2 separate regions of the Homo sapiens genome follow, and region 1 is linked to region 2. Evidence: fine-mapped expression QTL. Tissue or cell type: monocytes. Region 2 holds a variant in brackets; the other region holds the start of a gene. All regions are shown on one strand. Distances are between the middles of the regions.

Evidence for each region. PIP is the estimated chance that this variant, and not a neighbour inherited with it, causes the effect. A credible set is the group of variants that fine-mapping cannot tell apart.
Region 1: it holds the start of ZNF287, and the variant in region 2 is the best candidate, but not a certain one, in a credible set for the expression of ZNF287 in monocytes (TOPMed, PIP 0.67).

The regions. Positions count from the first base shown.
Region 1 is chr17:16,567,581-16,570,487 of GRCh38, forward strand. It overlaps ZNF287 (zinc finger protein 287), which reads right to left and starts at 1,624. Exons shown (of 6, transcript NM_020653.4): 1 at 1,372-1,624; 2 at 1-349. The coding sequence starts at 151. RefSeq lists enhancers at 687-1,188, 1,189-1,688.
Region 2 is chr17:16,962,411-16,965,317 of GRCh38, forward strand. The region is part of intron 1 of TNFRSF13B (TNF receptor superfamily member 13B); the gene reads right to left. Among named protein-coding and RNA genes, the nearest start is that of TNFRSF13B, 8.3 kb to the right of the region's middle. RefSeq lists an enhancer at 2,153-2,422. The variant G/A (reference allele first, on the strand shown) is at 1,387.

The DNA.
Region 1 (2,907 bases), 390 kb before region 2:
TCTGTCGACAGGTCTCAGTGTCACGCAAGAATCTTGAAGTAAGGATTTCCTTCTCAACATTGTAGGGTCCACTCTGAGCCTTGTCTGACTTCCACCTTAGAAGGATTTGAGAACGTGAAGAACTGTTCATCCTCTTGCTTGAGGCTAACATTGCTACAGACAGGAGAGTCAATCTGGCAATATCCTTTATTTCTCCAGTAGTGAGCCAACTGCTTGAAGTCTCATGCTAGAGTCACAAGGACACTATATCAAAGGCTGCTGCAGCCGAGGGCAGAACAGAATCAAGGTAGAGTTAGCAGCCTTAGTGACAAATTCTGAGCCCAGAACTTGCAGGGATGGATAAGAGACCCTGAAACACAAGCATGGACCACAAGGTCAAGAATCCCTGGTGTACTCTACTATACATATACACACACAGAAACAGACTCGCAGTGTGCATAGATGAACACACATAAGCTTTACCTTGTCTTCCTCCCCTATATCCTTAGACTTGTAAGGGAACTGCCATCTGCTTGGGGTTGGTGGGGGATGGAGCTGCTATTAAAAAGGTAGTGTCAGAGGCAATGACTCGAATCTAAGCCAAACAACAGATTAAACCTCTAACCTGTTGTAACAAAAATTAAACATTTTTATAGAGAAAATAGTTTCATTATTTTAGTCACTGATGTTACAGAAGCTGTAATGACTGAACGGACTCTCAACAATAACAAAGTGAATCTGTTACTTGGAAGAAACTAGGAGAATTTCTTCTTAATACAGTGCTCAAGGTTCCCAAGGGAACTGTCAGGGGAAAGGGCGAGCCATTTATCTGCGTTGCATGTTAATGCCAGCCGATTCTAGCCTTTCACTATCAGAGGGTTGGGAAGACCAGCGGGTTGGACTGGAAAAGAGTGAAGAGGTTGGTGTGACTTCAAGTCCTTTAAGTGCTTCTATAGGAGACAGTTCTTTAGGGATATATTCGAAACCAGGATTCTCGAAGGAAACCTTAGAACCGGCCTGATCTGGAGGAGAACCGACACCACCTCTCCCCAGGCTCCAGCTCCGAGCCCTGCTGAGGCACAGTCGTGCCACCAAAGACAACTGTTTACAAGGCCCTGCGGAGGTGATGCGACAGCCTTGCCTTGCCTCCTGTCGCCTCCCCTTCCCGGCCAAGTCCCTCTGCCTCTTACTCCTCTTCAGCCGCAGGGTCGAGGTCGAGGGCAGCGGGGGAGTCGGGGACCGTGCGACGCGCAACGCTGGGACTGGGCCCACAGCAGCCTCCACCCCGTCTTTGCCCTCCCGCAAGCCACGAGCACGGGAGCCCGCGCGTGGACGGGCTCGGGCTGTCACTGATCGCGCGGACACTCGCGCGCTGCGCCCGGACATCAATACCTGTCGCTGGGACCCGGCCGACGGGCAGCCGGAGCGGCCCTAAGGCCACAGGCAACAATGGCGACGCTGGCACAGGCGCCTGCGTGGCGGGCTCAGTCCCGAGCGGCAGCGGATCCTCGGGCTCCGCCACTTCCCTTCCCCGCAAAGCACAGAGTGTCCCGGCCAGGAGCTGCACGTTCCAGCCCGGTCCTGAGAAGCCCGGCCCAGAAACCCCGGCGCCTCTGCTTAGCCGCGACCTCGCCTCGGCGTCACTGCGCATGTGCGCCAGAGGAACGCTGCGCGCCCGCAGAGCCAATCGGAGCCCAAGCTGCCGCCTCCCCCTCCCGCGCCTCTGGCCCTGGACCTGTCTCCATGGCAACCTCCTCCACCCATCGCTCTGACTTGCTTGTCAGCCTGCGAGGTTCCGAAGGGAACTTCAAAGTTTCCCCGGGCAGACGCAGGTCTGGTAGACGTCTTGGAGGCCAGGGAGGTGCCAGTAGCTGGAGGAGCGCCGGGAGTTGAAGCCCCGCGCCAACTACGCAGAGAAAACTGGGCGCCAGATTTCCTAGAGGAAGAATGGGCAGGGAAGATGTGGGTCTAAAGGCAGAAAGACTTAATGTGCGGTTTCGGGCTTTACTGTGCATACATACTAACTGTGAAAGGTTTTCACTTCCTCCTCAGGAATTTGATTCTGAGACTCTCAGATTGGGGGAAAAAAACCCATGTTCTTTCTTTCTTTCTTTTTTTTCTTTTGAGACGGAGTCTCGCTCTGTCGCCCAGGCTGGAGTGCAATGGTGCGAGCTCGGCTCACTGCAACCTCCGCCTCCTGGGTTCAAGTGATTCTCCTGTGTTCAAGTGATTCTCACTTGAACTTCCTGGGTTCAGCCTCCCGAGTAGCTGTTATTTCTAAGAGACACAAAACAAAAATACATAAAACACTGGAAAAATAAAAGCATAGAAAAACATATTCAAGGTGTTCCCGTTATCTACTGTTCTATTAACAAACCACCCCAAAACTTAGTGGTTTTGAAGGACAATCACCGTATTATGCTCATAAATTTCATGGTGAGGAATTTGAAAGGGGAACTGAGTGGGTGGGCCTTTGCCTCATTATGTCTGTAGCCTCTGTTGGGATGATTTGATGGCTGGGAGGGCCCGCTTCCAAGATGGCTTTTCCACTCACATGTCTACTGCTTGGGAGGAGATGGGCTAAAAGATGAACTCGGCTTGTGTTTGACCAGAGTGCCTCAATGTGGTCTCTCCAGCATAAAGGACTGAGGGCAGCTGGACTTGTTACATGGTGGCTCTGGGCTCCAAGAGTGAGCATTCCAGTGAACAAGAGAGAAGCGCCATGGCCAATTATAACATGGCCTTGGAAGTCACCTAACACCAATTCTGTCAGACTCTTGGTCAAAGCAATCACAAGCCTACAGAGAATCAAATGGAGGCAGAATCCTGTGAGGGTGGAGGAGGACTGTCAAAGACTCTTAATATCACCACACCAGGAAAATTTTAACAAAAAGAAAGTTGGACCGGGCGCGGTGGCTCACGCCTGTA
Region 2 (2,907 bases):
GCAGGAGAATCACTTGAAACCAGGAGACAGAGGTTGCAGCGAGCTAAGATTGTGCCACTGCACTCCAGCCTGGGCCACAGAGTGAGACTCGGTCTCCCCCCCCAAAAAAAAAGAAAGAAAAAAAAAAGAAAGGAAAAGAAAGGTAATCATAGGACATGTACAGCAGCTCAGCTGTGGGCAATATTTATATTGTCATAAATAAATGAGCCATCTGAGTCAACAAATAAGGTGGAGATGTGGAATTATTCCTTCTGTAAAAGAGTTTACTCACTGTGAGAGCCATTAGACCATTGTCAGTGAGCAAAGGCAAAAACAGGCTTTCTAGGAGAGAGCAAGGAGAAGGGGAAGAACAAAACTGCAGAGGAGTTGACATTCTGGAGCAGAGCCGGCAGCCAGCAGGTCTATCTTGACTCCAACTGAAAACGCACCCCTCCTTCACCGGGGGCCGGGGGAGGGGAAGCTGCATGCATGCAGATAGTGACGTCCAAGTTAAGTTCTCACCTTAGAAAGTGGGGAATCAATCCAGAGCGTCTAAAATGGACAAGTCAAGGACCAGCAGGGGGAGTGGACCAGATTCTGAGCCACTTTGGGGATGAGCCTGGGGAAAGCCACAGGGCAGCCCTGCTTGGAACCCTGGGCTGTGAGTCATGGGGCTGGTACTCCTTGCTGTGTGACCTTGGGCACGACTTCTGCTCTTGGACACCCAGCGTCCTCCCCTGTAAGATGAGGATGCTGTTGCTTACTCACAGAATCACTGTGAGCAGCATATGCATGGCAGGTGCCTAGTATGGTATTGAGCACGTTAGTAAAGACAACCCCCTGAGCTGCTGCCCTTATTAATATTGCCATTTCTTATGATAAGGAGTGCTGTGCTGGACAAGGCCTACACCTGGATCGAGACAACAAAAATTTTAGGGGCCAATTCCTGTTGGCGTGAGCCAACTCCCTCTTTTCCTCCTTGGTGGGGAGGTGTCTGTGCAGGAGTGAAGGAGCAGGGTTGGGGCGATGGGTGGGCTCCTCATTCTTGCCCTTTACAATTTCACCAAGAAAACCTGTAGATGTGACTGAAAGAGAAGGAACAGTAAAAGCTTGGCAGATAGGAGGAATTTCTTATCAAGTTTTGTTTTTGTTTTTGTTTTTGTTTTTTTGGTTTTTTCGAGACGGAGTCTGGCACTGCCACCCAGGCTGGAGTGCAGTGGCACCATCTCGGCTCACTGCAAGCTCCACCTCCTGGGTTCACGTCATTCTCCTGCCTCAGCCTCCAGAGTAGCTGGCACTACAGGTGCCCACCACCACGCCTGGCTAATTTTTTTGTATTTTTAGTAGAGACAGGGTTTCACCGTGTTAGCCAGGATGGTCTCGATCTCCTGACCTCCTGATCCACCC[G/A]CCTCGGCCTCCCAAAGTGCTGGGATTACAGGCGTGAGCCACAGAGCCCGGCCTTTCTCATCCAGTCTTTCAAGCAAACACTGACTGCAAACTTGGGCTGGGGGCTATGAGTTGAGCTCACCAGTGGGGTAGGGGCAGGAGAGGATTCCAGCGTGCAGAGATAGGGTGTGTGCCCCGATAAGGCTGCAGCCTGAGACCTGAGGGATGTGCATGGGAATGGATGGTGACCTTACAACCTGGCTTCTGCTAACTGGGAAGGAGAAGGAGGAAGAAATGGAGGAGGAAAAGAAGGATGAGGAAGAGGAGGCAGAAGAGGAGAAGAAGGGAAAAAGAAGAGAGATGAGGAAGACAGGGAAGAGAAGGAGAGAAGGAAGGAGGAGGAGGAAAAGATGGCTTTTGGTTTCTGTGAGCTGTATATGCTTTTTCCCCGGGCTATTTTGAAATACTGAAAATGGCTCTAAGACCCCCCTGCCTGCTCCCACCTCCACTCAGAATGAACCTTCAGAGATGTTCAAGGTTGAGAGTCCACCATCTCCATGCCTTTTTTTTTTTTTTTTTTTTTTGAGATGGAGTTTCACTCTTGTTCCCCAGGCTGGAGTGCAGTGGTGAGATCTCGGCTCACTGCAACCTCTGCCTTCCGAGTTCAAGCAATTCTTCTGCCTCAGCCTCCCAAGTAGCTGGGATTACAGGTGTGTGCCCCTACACCCGGCTAATTTTTGTATTTTTAGTAGATGAGGTTTCTCCATGTTGGTCAGGCTGATCTCGAACCCCTGACCTCAGGTGATCTGCCTGCCTCAGCCTCCCAAAGTGCTGGGATTACAGGCGTGAGCCACCACGCCCGGCCTCCCATGCTGGTTCTAAAGGAAGAAGAACTTAGTTAGGTCCTGGGAAAACTGGTCAAGTCACCTTCTCAGTTTTCTGTTTGTGAAATGGGGACAGCCACTTCTACCCATCATAATTTTCACCTCCTGCCAGCTCATGTTGAAAACGGATTCGCCATGGTTCAGTGACCCAGAGTGTGCCGGAGTGAAGTGCCCGTGGTGGGGAAAGCACGGCTGAGTCATCTTGGGAAGGACTCTGGCTGTGCACAACCTCAGTTTTCCTGACCTGTAAAATGGACACTCTAGACTTTCTTTTGTAGATCTTCTCAAGGGTGTGTACATGACAAGCATGTAACTGGCCCAAGACATGGCTGCTGCTACTGGTATAATAACTACCAGTAGTGATATAAATAGTATGAAATATAATGGGTTAATAGTTATCATTTTATAATAATTTATAATAATGTAAAATAATTTTAATATTAGTGATAATTAACATTTTCTTTTGTAGAGACAGGGTCTTGCTCTGTCTCTACAAAATTACAGTGGTGCAATCATAGCTCACTGCAGCCTTGAACTCCTGGGTTCAAGTGATTCTTTCCCCTCAGCTTCCCAATTAGCTAAGACAACAGCTGTGAGCCCCTGTGCCCAGCCAATGATAATCATTAATAATGATAGTAGCATCAAATTAGTGCTCTGG